Regions from separate parts of the Homo sapiens genome. Here regions 1 and 3 are each linked to region 2. Evidence: fine-mapped expression QTL. A gene starts in region 2. Each other region holds a variant in brackets. All regions are shown on one strand. Distances are between the middles of the regions.

Region 1 (4,230 bases), 31 kb after region 2:
GATGGTCTAGATCTCCTGACCTCATGATCCACCTGCCTTGGCCTCCCAAAGTGCTGGGATTACAGGCGTGAGCCACCGCGCCCAGCCTAAAGTAACCATTTTTAAAAATTATTATTTTTTTCTAAGAATGAGTCTCGCTCTGTAGCCCGGGCTGGAGTGCAGTGGCACGATCTTGGCTTACTGCAACCTCCACCTCCCGGGTTCAAGCAATTCTCTGCCTCAGCCTTCCGAGTAGCTGGGACTGCAGGCGCATGCCACCAAGCCCGGCTAATTTTTGTATTTTTAGTAGAGATGGGGTTTCACCATATTGGTCAGGCTGGTCTTGAATTCCTGAGCTTAGGTGATCCATCTGTCTCAGCCTCCCAAAGTGCTAGGATTACAGGTGTGAGCCACTGCGCCCAGCCTAAAAATTAATTTTTGATTTATCTTTTCATTAATTCTTTTTGAAAATACAGGCATATTTGCAGGTCTATTTATATCTCCCTTTCTTATTTAAAAAGGAGTTTACAGTCCACACTAGCACAGGCTGATTTTAGCACTGTTTCATTGTTTTCCTGGAGAATGAAACAGCACACACACACACACACACACACACACACACACACACACACGAAAAAAACGCTGAAAAAAAATTTTTTTTTAAAAGAACACGGTTTTCTGCTGAACATCAAATGACTCGAAGAAATCTACTTTGGAGAGGTTGAAGTTGGTGGTCTTTTCTCTACCTGCTTTTATTTCTTCAGTATATCTTTATTGAGCTTTCACTAAGTGCCAGGCGCTTAGGGCTAGTACTGGCTGGGTGCCAGGGACATGTGTCTCATGAACCAGGTAGCATTTCCTACCCTCTTGGGGCTGTCTTTGTGGGGTTGCTGGTGGTGGAAGACATTGAAAATAGGTCATCATGGCTGGGCGCGGTGGCTCATGCCTGTAAGTCTAGCACTTTGGGAGCCCCAGGCTGGTGGATCACTTGAGGTCAGAAGTTCCAAACCAGCCTGGCCAACATGGCAAAACCCCGTCTCTACTAAAACTACAAGAATTTGCCGGGTTTTGTGGTGTGCGCCTGTAATCCCAGCTACTTGGAAGGCTGAGACACAAGAATTGCTTGAACCTGGTGGGAGGAGGTTGCAGTGAGCCAAGATCGTGCCACTGCACTCCAGCCTGGGTGACACAGCAAGACTGTGTCTCGGAAAGAAAAGGGCTGGGGAAGGGGAGGGGAAGGGAAGGGAAGGGAGGGGAAGGGAGGGGAGGGGAGGGGAGGGGAGGGGAGGGGAGGGGAGAAAAGGTCAACAGACCAGTTATGGCCCTGCTGTAGTGGCTGGGGAGGAAATCAGCAGGAGACTGAGAATAATTAGGAGAACCCACGAGAGCTGGGTGGTCAGGACAGGACCTAACAGGTCCTAGAGGATGAAAGGAGGTGGCCATGTAATTAATGCTTTATAAAGAATCTTGGCCGGGCACGGTGGTTCACGCCTGTAATCCCAGCACTTTGGGAGGCCGAGGCGGGTGGATCACGAGGTCAGGAGATTGAGACCATCCTGGCTAACGCGGTGAAACCCCGTCTCTACTAAAAATACCAGAAAATTAGCCGGGCGTGGTGGCTGGTGCCTGTAGTCCCAGCTACTCGGGAGGCTGAGGCAGGAGAATGGCATGAACCTGGGAGACGGAGCTTGCAGTGAGCTGACATCGCACCACTGCACTCCAGCCTGGGCGACAGAGCGAGACTCCGTCTCAAAAAAAAAAAAAAAAAAAAAAAAAAGAATAGGTTACAGCTATTGATATTTACCTTAATAGATATGGAAAACTATTAAATAATTTACAAATTCAAGAACAACAATAATCCCACTACATGTTAATATAAAGAAAATTTGGCCGGGCGCAGTGGCTCACCCCTGTAATTCCAGCTCTTTGGGAGGCCAAGGTGGGCAGATCATCTGAGGTCGGGAGACCAGCCTGGCCAACATGGTGAAACCCCGTCTCTACTAAAAATACAAAAATTAGCGAGGTGTGGTACTCACCTGTAATCCCAGCTACTTGGGAGGCTGAGGCAGGAGAATCGCTTGAACTCAGAAGGCAGAGGTTGTAGTGAGCTGAGGTCGTGCCATTGCAAGCCAGCCTCAGCGAAAGAGTGAGACTCCTTCTCAAAAAAAAAAAAAAAA[G/AG]AAAAGAAAATCTTTTAGTCAGGGATGGTGGCTCTTGCCTGTAATCCCGGCACTTCTGCAGGCCGCGGAGGGTGGATCGCTTGAGCCCAGGAGTTTGAGACCAGCCTGGGGAACATGGAGAGACCTCATCTCTACAAAAAATACAAAAATTAGCCGGCCATGGTGGTGCATGCCTGTAGTCCCAGCACTTTGGAAGGCCGAGATGGGAGGATTGCTTGAGGCCAGGAGCTCGAGACCAGCCTGGGCAACAGAGTGAGACCTCTGTCTATACATAAAATAAAATAAAATAACAAAATTAGCTGGGCATGGTGTTGCAAACCTGTAGTCCCAGCTACTCAGGAGGTTGAGGTGGGAGGATCACTTGAGCCCAGGAGGTTGAGGCTGCAGTGAGCTATGATTGTACCACTGCACTCTATCCAGTCTGGGCAGCAGAACAAGACCAACTCAATGGAAAAATAATAATAACTTGTTTTTTTTTTTGAGACAGAGTCTCACTCTGTCTCCCAGGCTGGAGTACAGTGGTGCGATCATGGCTTGACCTGGGTTTAAGGGATTCTCCCACCTCTGCCTGTCCAGCAGCTGGAACTACAGGTGCTTGCCACCATGCCTGGCTAATCTTTTTTTTTTTTTTTTTTTGAGACAGAATTCACTCTGTCACCTAGGTGCAGAGTGCAGTGGTGTGATCTTGGCTGATTGCAACCTCTGCCTCCCTGGTTCACCTCAGCTTCCCGAGTAGCTGGGATTACAGGTACATGCCACCACACCCAACTGATTTTTATATTTTTAGTAGAGAAAGGGTTTTGCCATGTTGGCTAGGCTGGTCTCGAACTCCTGACCTCAAGTGATCTGTTGCCTTGGCCTCCCAAAGTGCTGGGATTACAACTGTGAGCCACTTCACCCGGCCTAATTTCTGTGCGTTTTTTTTTTTTTTTTTTTTTTTGTAGAGGTAGGGTCTTGCTATGTTGCCCAGGCTGGGTGAGTTTTGCAAAATGGTTATGTGTGTGAATTTAGCTGAAGCAATAACGAGGATTTGGTTGCATTGGGAACCAAACCAGTCTCTAGTTATGAAGAAGGCAATGAGCACAACACACTTCTGCCAAATTGTAGGGGAGAAGTGCGTTCTTGAAGACCATCAATAACTGAATATCTGAACTATTCAAGGCTATTTTTCTCAATGGAACTAACTGACCAATGATGGGGCATTTTACTTAGTGCCATAAAGTGTCACCTCCAGGTGGCACGGGTGTTAACAAAGTTTGCCAGTTCCTTGTTCTACCAGCTTTGAAATTCAACTTTGATAGTTGAGCAACTTTTCAAAGATGGAACATTTGTGTTATTTCAAATGCTGTGGGGAACATTTGTGTTATTTCAAATGCGGCAGAAAAGATGAAACTCTATTAGTAACGCTTTTAATAAACTTTAAATTTTTTATAATTCAAAAAAATTTAAAGTTCCTTGAGCTAGCTTGTATGTTCATTACCTAGTGTAGTCCTTGTGCTTAGTGATTGTAACAGCAGAGCAAAATGACACCGCTGTTATATGGATATTTATTTCCAGTGATGCCAAAGGCCCAGTTTTTTTTTCTTTCTTTCTTCCTTCCTTCCTCCCTCCCTCCCTTTCTTTCTTTCCTTCCTTCTTTCCTTCCCCTCCCTTCTTCCTTCCTTCCTTGTTTTTGACAGTCTTGCTCTGCTCTGTCACCCAGGCTGGAGTGCAGTGGAATGACCTCGGCTCACTGCAACCTCTGCCTCCCAGGGTTCAATCGATTCTCCTGCCTCAGCCTCCTGAGTAGCTGGTATTATAGGCATGCACCACCACGCCTGGCTAATTTTTGTATTTTTAGTAGAGACAGGGTTTCATCGTCTTGGCCAGGCTGGTCTCCAACTCCTGACTTTAAGTGATCTGCCCGCCTCAGCCTCCCAAAGTGCTGGGATTACAGGTGTGAGCCACCACTCCTGGCCCCAAAAACCCAATTTAATTAAAAGAAGAAGAAAAAAAGGAACTCTCACTGCCATTGTGTTCTCCACTTTGCCCCAGGTGCTGGGCTCTGAGAGCTCCAGGGGCAGGGCTTGTATTT
Region 2 (4,230 bases):
TAAAAGTGATCAATATCAGTGGACTTGAGTGAAAAAAAATTCACCCAATTTAGTTTTTTAGTGCTGGCCTAAGAATCTACTGGCACTGCTAATTAATTGTGAGTAATTGATTCGCTTCCTTTTTAAAAAAGACTAACCAGACCATATGTGGGGTTAGTAGTTATATATAAAATGACAGCAAAACATGACACTTGGCAAATTCTTCCCCTTTGCTGAGCTGTCTTCTCAAATTCCTTTTCCTATTTATTAAGATTGCATTGCTCACCAGCTCCGGATCGTTTCTGTAGTGCGTTCTTTCTTTTGATTTAGGAAATAGATATTTTAAATGCTTTTCTTGATGTGTTTTAAAGTTTTTTCATTTTGGATATGCTGAAGGCCGGTAAAAACACAAATATTTGGCTATTTTGTTAGTAGCGACTTGCATAGATCCATTTCACATTTGCATTAGTTTGCATTTTGGGGTAGAAAAATTGTGGATGTGCTTGTTATGTCTATGGTTCCTCGAAGCTTATTTAAAATGGGGAAATATCACAGGCCTTAGGAATCAGGATCTTTTTTTTGTCCTTTTTTTCAGTAAGGAAAGAAAACATTTGGGAAACGCTTTAAATGAGTTGTGCGTAGGGAGGAGGGGAAAGGGTAGCGGTTTTTTTTTTTTTTTTTTTGTCCCTTTTTTTGTCCCCGGTTTCCTCCAAATGGATTTCTATCAAAACCAAGTAGATTCTTGGAACCTAGGCTAAGTTTAGAAATCTCAAGTTAGAATAGCGCAAGCCCAGCCCTTTCAGAAAAAAAAAAATCACAACAATTAAATAGCTTTCTGAAGATACTCATTTAAAAACTGTTTATCTTCTCGACCTTCCTCAAGCTTGAAGAAAATCTTTGGTGTTTTTCGCGCACAGCTGCCTTCTAACCCGCGAGCAACGGCGTTAAGGTTTTTGTTTGTAATTCGGGGTGACCCAGGGGTTCGGGCCGCGGGCCCCTCCCCTCGCCCGCGCACACCTTGCAGAGGAGGGGGCGGCGGGGACAGGGCCGGATCTGCGCCTGCGCACACCCTCGCGGCCCCCTCCCTCCGGCCTCCCCGGGTACCTGTCACGGCTACCGCCGCGGCGCGCGCCCGCCACGTTAAGCCGGATGGCGGGAGGAGGGGTGCGGGGCGGGGGGCGCGGGGAGGGTGGCACGGCGCGCGCGTGCGCGGGAGTCGCCGAGCGAGAACTGGGAGTGCGCGCGCTCGCCGCTCGCTCCCGTCCCGGAGGCGGAGTCGGCGGCGGGGGGCGGAGCAGGGGCGCGCCTATGCTAGTCACGTGGGCGCTGGGGCGGGGCCGGGGCGGTGTGGGGCGTGGCCGGGCGGCCGGTGAAGGCAGGGGGCGGGGCGGCCGGTGAAGGCAGGGGGCGGGGCGTCTCCGAGCGGCGGGGCCGAGGGAGGGCGCAACAGCTGCTCCCTGAACACTTTCTGACCCAACAGTCCCCCAGCGCCGGACGCGCCGCGCCCCGGCGGCTCTAGGGACCCCCCGCGCCTGCACTGTCCCCGCGCGGACGAGTAGGGGGCGCCCGCGCCTTTGCCCCCGTGCGCACCCCCGCCCCGCTCACCTTAGCCCCGCGCCCGAGGTGAGCCCGGCCCCTATATTCTCCGGGCGGGGGTGGGGGTGGGGGACGCTCCTTTTTTGTTGGGGGGGGGTCTTGGAGGCGCGAAGGCACTAGGCTCCTCGGCGGATGGCTGCACCCCTCGCCCGCGGCTCCCCGTGTCTTTTGGGGGGCCGGGTGCGGGCGCGGAATCCGGGAGGTGTCCGCACAAAAGGCTGAGAGAAACTCCGCGACGCCTCCCTCCCTCCCTCCGCCCTCCCCGCCCCCTCCCCTCCGCGCCCGCTCCTCCTCATTCAAACCCGGCCGGCCCGAGTGGTGTCAGCTCAGTCCCGGCCGCCGCCGCGCGAGGAAATGGCCGAGGAGCCGGAGCCGCAGGTAAAGGGGGCGCGCCCCCCGCCCGCGCCAGCCGGGGCGCCCGCCCGGTCCTGCGGAGGCTCCCGCGCCGCCCCCGAGGCGCCCGGCTCTCGTTGTCTTGTCCCCCCCCAGGATGACCTCAGTTCCCCGTCTCAGCTTTCTATCCGCTCCTCTAGGGCGCCCCCTCCCCAGCCGGCTCCTGCGCTTCCGCCCGCGGGAAGGTGCGGGCGATCCCGGGCTGCATCCGCTCTTGGCCGTCACACTCACGCCGCACGATTCAGAGGGGCTTGGGGTGCGGGGTTCCCTGAATCTCCGCCGGGAGCGGGGGTCTGCGGGGGTGGGCGGTGGGGGGCTGTTCCGAAAAGTTGGGTCGCCCCGCGGGGCGGGTCTCCCAATTTGCCCAGTTGGCCCTTGGGGCGCGGGCGGAGGGGGAACGTCGGCGTAGGGTCCCCCCGCGATGCCCGGGGAAGGGCCGGGGCAAGTTGGAAGCGGCCAAAACAATGCGTCCGGACGGGCATCCCCCCGTAAACAATGGCCGGGACGGTCCACTCGGGCCGGGCGGAGGGCGCCTCTAAGGGACCGCGGGAGGGGCTGGGCCTCGCCGCGGACCCCGACGCGCGCCCCGTGACTCCCTCGGGTGCCCAAAAATCTGTCCCCGGGAGTCTTGGGGCGCCTGCTCATCCCTGAACAGGGATGCACGGGGCTGCGTTTCCTGGATGTGTGCGATAAGGTGGCTTTTTTTTTCCCTCCTCTAATTTTAAAGATTTTTTTAAGTCTTAATGTTCTATAAACACTTAAAGAATATCTTTACAACTCAATTCTAGTGGAACACCCAAAGCCAGCTGGAAGCAGAACTGGGAACTCTAAAGGGCAGGAAGGATTGAAATGCTAGCCCAAAAGTGCTGCTGCTTTTTTTTTTCTTTTCTTTTTTTTTTTTTTTAAGGGAAGTTTCTGCCAGGAGGTGCCGAGTGGTGAAACCGCTCAGTTTCAGGCACAGCCCTCTTGTCTCTCGATTTGGCCCCGACTGCGAGCCGGACGGGATGGTGGAGAGGCGGAGGGCGCTGCTGGGGGCCCGGGAGGCTGGATTTGGGGCTGCCTGGGCGGTCCCGCCCGAGGGGCAAGACCCGGCACGCGGGGCGCGCGCCGGAACCTGGGTCCCGGGAGTTTGAGAAGATGTTCAGGGCCCGGGTTGGAACCCACATTTTGGGATTCTGGGTAGGGCCACCGAAGACGGGAAGGCGCTTTCTTGGGCGGGTGGGGGTGGGGTGAGCAGGCAGGGAGTTTTCCGCCAGGTTTAGTTACAGGAGCTAGAAAAGGCCACTTCTGGGACCCTGGCATCTGGGCCGCCCTGAGAGCCCCAGAAACTTTTTTTTCTTTTTCTTTCCCCCCACCCCCCAGAAAAGGGTAGTCATTTCAGGTTTAAGGCTTTGGTGTATTGTTCTACCTCGAAATTCCTTGAGCCTCAGTTTATCTTCCTGAATCAGTCTATGGGGCTTGGAGCGTTGAACATTCCTAAACACGGAGAAAGTAAATGGCGGTTGCAGTGGTCCACTGGCCAGTTTGGGGGTCCTGTATTATTGGCCACTGTGTGTCCTACAGCGTAGCTAGGTTTTTCAGTTTTCTAGATCGTTTGGAAGCATTAAGCTGTATGTTTTAAGAAGCCTAGGTCTGATTTAGTTCAGGTTGATTCAATTATGTCTTCATTGCTTTTGAGTTGGTTGAATGACTTGACATGAGATTAAGCTCAACAAAAGAAAAGGCGAGGTAGCAACAGCTGCCGTCCAGGCCTGGCCACTAGGTAGGGGTCTTAGGAGGCCTTTTACCTTCTCTTTTGTATATGTCAAGAAGGAGATTTACAATGTTCTTATTTTACTGTACTTCTTTCCCCTGAAGTGGATGTTCTTTCTTGATTGATATCAAACAAGACTTAAAATGCTAAGTTTTATGATACTTAGACAACGAGTAATAGATGTAGTTTCTAAAAGCCTTGATGTGTCTGCAGTGACAAGTGCAGAGGAATAACCTCATTGCTTTTTGTCTGAAAATATAACAGGCAAGCCACTAGTTTGTGCTTACTTAATGTGTGCTAAGAACTTTTAAGGTGTGTCCTTAATGGTAGATAACTTTTTTCCTTCTGGGAAGTCATATTTATTTTAGATATTGTTTTGTTCAGGGTTCTGGAGACTAATAGTGTTTCGTTTTGTTTCTTAACCCTGATGTTGCTGCCATTTTTAATCGGTTATATTTAAATTCAAGAGGCAGTAAGTTATTTAAAATACAGTTGTCAGTAGTTCCAAG
Region 3 (4,230 bases), 59 kb before region 2:
TCATAGAGACCAACTCAACTTTTTTTTTTTTTTTTTGAGATGGAGTTTCACTCTGGTTGCCCAGGCTAGAGTGGTGCAGTGGCACGATCTTGGCTCACTGCAACCTCCGCCTCCCAGGTTCAAGTGATTCTTCTGCCTCAGCCTCCCAAGTAGCTGGGACTACAGGCACACGCCGCCATGCCCAGCTAATTTTTGTATTTTTAGTAGAGACGGGGTTTCACCATATTGGCCAGGCTGGTCTTGAACTCCTGACCTCGTGATCCGCTGTCCTTGGCCTCCCAAAGTGCTAGGATTACAGGCGCGAGCCATTGTGCCCAGCCCCAACTCAACTTTTAATTTAACTTTGGGAAGGCTGTTTTGAAAAGAGGGGTTATTTTTTAAAATTTGGAGTCTTTGGATTTATTTGTCAAAAATACATAGTTTAACAAATAATTTTAAGTATATAATAGTACAGAAATGTACTCTTTTTTGTAAAAGACAATATGGAGTAAAAGGTTTATGAAGAAATTGATTTCATAAGGGACATCTGAAACTAATCAATGAGTATCCTCAATCCAAAGTCGGGGCGGTGGCTCACGCCTATAATCCCAGCAGTTTAGGAGGTGGAGGCAGGCTGATCACCTGAGGTCAGGAGTTTGAGACCAATCTGGCCAACATGGTGAAACCCCATCTCTACTAAAAATACAAACGTTAGCCGGATGTGCTGGCCCATACTTGTAATCCCAGCTACTTGGGCGGCTGAGGTACGAGAATCACTTGAACCAGGGAGGTAGAGGTTGCAGTGAGCCAAGATCGCGCCACTGCACTCCAGCCTGGGAGACAGTGAGACCCTGTCTCAAAAAAAATCAAAACAAAACAACAACAACAACAACAACAAAAATGCCCCAAGACAGGTCCAGGGAACTGGATGGTAAATTTCCAAGTAGAAACACCCTAATCCTGAAACCAAATTCTCAGTCCACAACTTGCCGTATGCCTGAGCTCCATCATTTATTTTTTAAATTGATTTTTTAGCAACCAGCTGAGGCCTCTGCTTCCTTCAAATATGCAACTATCATAGTTACTTCCTTCTACTCCTTCCCTCCCGTGGGCCCAGAGGGCTAACACAAAAATTTCCCCCTTGATAAATGCTGATAGCAGTGTGAGAACAGCTGCTTTTCCCCAAGCTTGGACAGGCCTTTTCTCAATTTTAATATGTATCGGCCCTTACTGACTAACCTCGGCTTTGCAAACCCTTGCTTGGCTGGAAAGACTTACCTCCTGCAAAATAGAATGGTGGTGTTAAGAATTTTAGCTTGCAGATAAACACATTTAAATGCAGTGATAGCTCTTGAACATTGCACTCCCAATTTAATCTTTAATTTCTCCCAGATACACAGTAAACTTGAAATGGTCTTTAAAAATAAAGACTAAAAAAATTAAAAAGCACTAAAAGCTTTAAGGATACATGTCCAAATTACCCTGTAAAGAGTTGTTACCAAACAAAACAAACAAAACACCACGTTCACAGAGATTAATTACAGGGGACCTAAATTGAGAACTATCTAGTATCATAAATGATCATGATAACCAACAAAACTGAATTAGCATCAGTTTGAGACCTCACAGTTAAAGAAGGAAATAGACAAAAAAAAGTCTACTGTTTGAAAAGTGTTTAAACATTGACTGCTGTGAAAAGGGGTATAAAAATAAAACCAAAGAGATGGAAGAACTGTTTTCTGTGTGCAGTGGGAAAGTTTACACAGTTGACAAGCTGTCATGTGGGGATGTCCCAGCAACATTCAAAAGTCTATTTCCTTAGATCAAAAAGGACAGACACAAGCCCAATATTTATATTAATATCTGTGCTCGTTGGTCATAGTCCCTCTTCCCCAGAGTAATTATATGCTGCATCCGTGGAGCAATGTGTCTAATACCTTAATTCTCTGAGTACAAAGACCAGTGGGGTCATATGACGTTGCTATATTTAGAAAAGGACCTGCTTTCTGTTTTGCGCAACTCTTAAC[A/C]ATTTTCTGCTCTGAAGAGAGTTTCAAATGTACATTGATCTTTCTCATATCGTGAATGAACTGAATTAGCACCTGTTTTCAACTGCCACGATACTTATTTTAAAAAAGGGGAAAGAGAAGTCTGTGTACTCTTAATTCAACAAGGGACATGGGAGGTGTAATTTTTTTTTCTGCCTTCTTCCACAGAACTTAACCAGAAAGCAGTGATATTTACCAAATTTTACAGAGGCTAAGGTAGGTACTGTACAACTGAACAAAGCAACATGTGGAATGGTGATTATATCCCACGGTGATTTAGATGAAAATTTTCCAAAAACAAAACAAAACAAAACAAATACTACTAATGTTGGGAAGAGCTAACTCATGTAACTACGCAAAGTAACTGTGAATAATTAACTCTAAAGAAGCAGAAAAATAATTTATTAGTTACAGAAATGTCTGTGTAAGCCCCTTCCTCATAAAATACCTGGAAATAATAATGATTGTTTAAATGAACAGGTTTTGTTTTCTTTTTTTTTTTTAAATCATAAACATCAATTGACTACAACAAGTCCAATCCGTTTGGAAGCATGCTTGCCATCTATCAATATATTTTTTTTAGTAACCAAAGGTTAATTTTATGTTGATAAAATGAAATGTACAATAAAAGTTAGAAAATGTATAAACTTTTTTTTTTTTTTTTTTGAGATGGAGTCCCGCCCTGTCGCCAGGCTGGAGTGCAGTGGCACAATCCCGGCTCACTGCAACCTCTGCCTCGCGGGTTCAAGCGATTCTCCTGCCTCAGCCTCCCTAGTAGCTGGGATTACAGGCGTGTGCCACTATGCCCAGCTAATTTTTGTACTTTTAATAGAGACGGGGTTTCATCATGTTGGCCAGGATGGTCTTGATCTCTTGACCTTGTGATCCGCCCACCTCGGCCTCCCAAAGTGCTGGGATTACAGGTGTGAGCCACCGCGCCCGGCCGAAAATGTATAAACTTTTATGTGCAAAGAGTATAATAAACATATGTAATGATAATAGCTTAATTTTTTTAAAAAAATTTTTTCTTTTGCAATGGAGTTTTGCTCTTATTGCCCAGGCTGGAGTGCAATGGTGCGATCTTGGCTCACCGCAACCTCCGCCTCCCGTGTTCACGTGATTCTCCTGCCTCAGCCTCCGGAGTAGCCGGGATTATACGCATGTGCCACCACCCCCGGCTAATTTTGTATTTTTTTAGTGGAGATGGGGTTTCTCCATGTTGGTCAGGCTGGTCTCAAACTCCCGACCTCAGGTGATCTGCCCGCGTTGGCCTCCCAAAGTGCTGGGATTACAGGCATGAGCCATCGTGCCCGGCCTATAATAGCTTAATTTTTTAAACTTTTATTTCAATAACTTTTGGGGTACAGGTGGTTTTGGGGTTACATAAACTCTTTAGTGGTGACTTCTGTGATTTTAGTGCACCCGTCACCCCAGTGCATGCTGCACCCAATATGTAGACTTATTCTCAGAATATTCTTTTTTTTTTTTTTGAGACGGAGTCTCACTGTGTCGCCCATGCTGGAGTGCCCTGGTGGGATCTCAGCTGACTGCAACCTCCGCCTCCCGGGTTGAAGCTATTCTTCTGCCTCAGCCTCCCAATTAGCTGGGATTACAAGCGCTCAGCCGCCATGTCCAGCTGATTTTTGTATTTTTAGTAGAGACGGGGTGTTGGCCAGGCTCGTCTCCAACTCCTGACCTCAAGTGATCCGCCCACCTTGGCCTCCCAAAGTGCTGGGATTACAGGCATGAGCCACTGCACCCGGCCCAAATATTATATTTTATCAATTCTAAAGTGCACTTTAGTTTTTACATTTTAATATAACTAAAATCAATATGTATTTTGCAGTCAATGGCATCTTGCTATTATTTGAAAACATTTATTTAATAGTCCGTAAAATAATGGAACATGCCCAGATGCAGTGGTTTATGCCTGTAATCCCAGCACTTTGAAGGGTCAAGATAGGAGGATCGCTTGAGCCCAGGAGCTCGAGACCAGCCTGGCCAATATAGTGACAGAGACCCCAACTCTACAGAATAAATAAATAAGTAAATAAAATAATGGAAAATCTCACAAATGGTGACGTTTTAGGTTCGACAAAATACAGTAACTAGCCCATTTAGTTTTCTGAAATTTTGATGTTATTGCTTAAATATTTGTTCTGTGGTACACAACCGTAGGATTAATAATATTGATGAAAATAATAAA

Direction of the effects. Alleles are on the strand shown, and positions count from the first base shown. SD is a standard deviation of normalised expression in the study named. Not every link is listed here.
As copies of A replace C in region 3, the expression in skeletal muscle of the gene that starts at base 1,870 in region 2 goes down (small effect, 0.20 SD a copy in GTEx).

Evidence for each region. PIP is the estimated chance that this variant, and not a neighbour inherited with it, causes the effect. A credible set is the group of variants that fine-mapping cannot tell apart.
Region 1: its variant is the best candidate, but not a certain one, in a credible set for the expression of ZNF217 in monocytes (Quach 2016, PIP 0.87).
Region 3: its variant is the best candidate, but not a certain one, in a credible set for the expression of ZNF217 in skeletal muscle (GTEx, PIP 0.68).

The regions. Positions count from the first base shown.
Region 1 is chr20:53,560,653-53,564,882 of GRCh38, reverse strand. ZNF217-AS1 (ZNF217 antisense RNA 1) reads right to left here. Exons shown (of 6, transcript NR_110051.1): 3 at 2,016-2,134. Among named protein-coding and RNA genes, the nearest start is that of ZNF217-AS1, 10 kb to the right of the region's middle. The variant G/AG (reference allele first, on the strand shown) is at 2,157.
Region 2 is chr20:53,591,479-53,595,708 of GRCh38, reverse strand. ZNF217 (zinc finger protein 217) reads left to right here and starts at 1,870. Exons shown (of 6, transcript NM_006526.3): 1 at 1,870-1,953. RefSeq lists silencers at 850-1,689, 1,780-1,859, 2,350-2,499, 2,920-3,159.
Region 3 is chr20:53,650,233-53,654,462 of GRCh38, reverse strand. No RefSeq gene overlaps it. Among named protein-coding and RNA genes, the nearest start is that of ZNF217, 59 kb to the right of the region's middle. RefSeq lists an enhancer at 1,212-1,261. The variant A/C (reference allele first, on the strand shown) is at 2,007.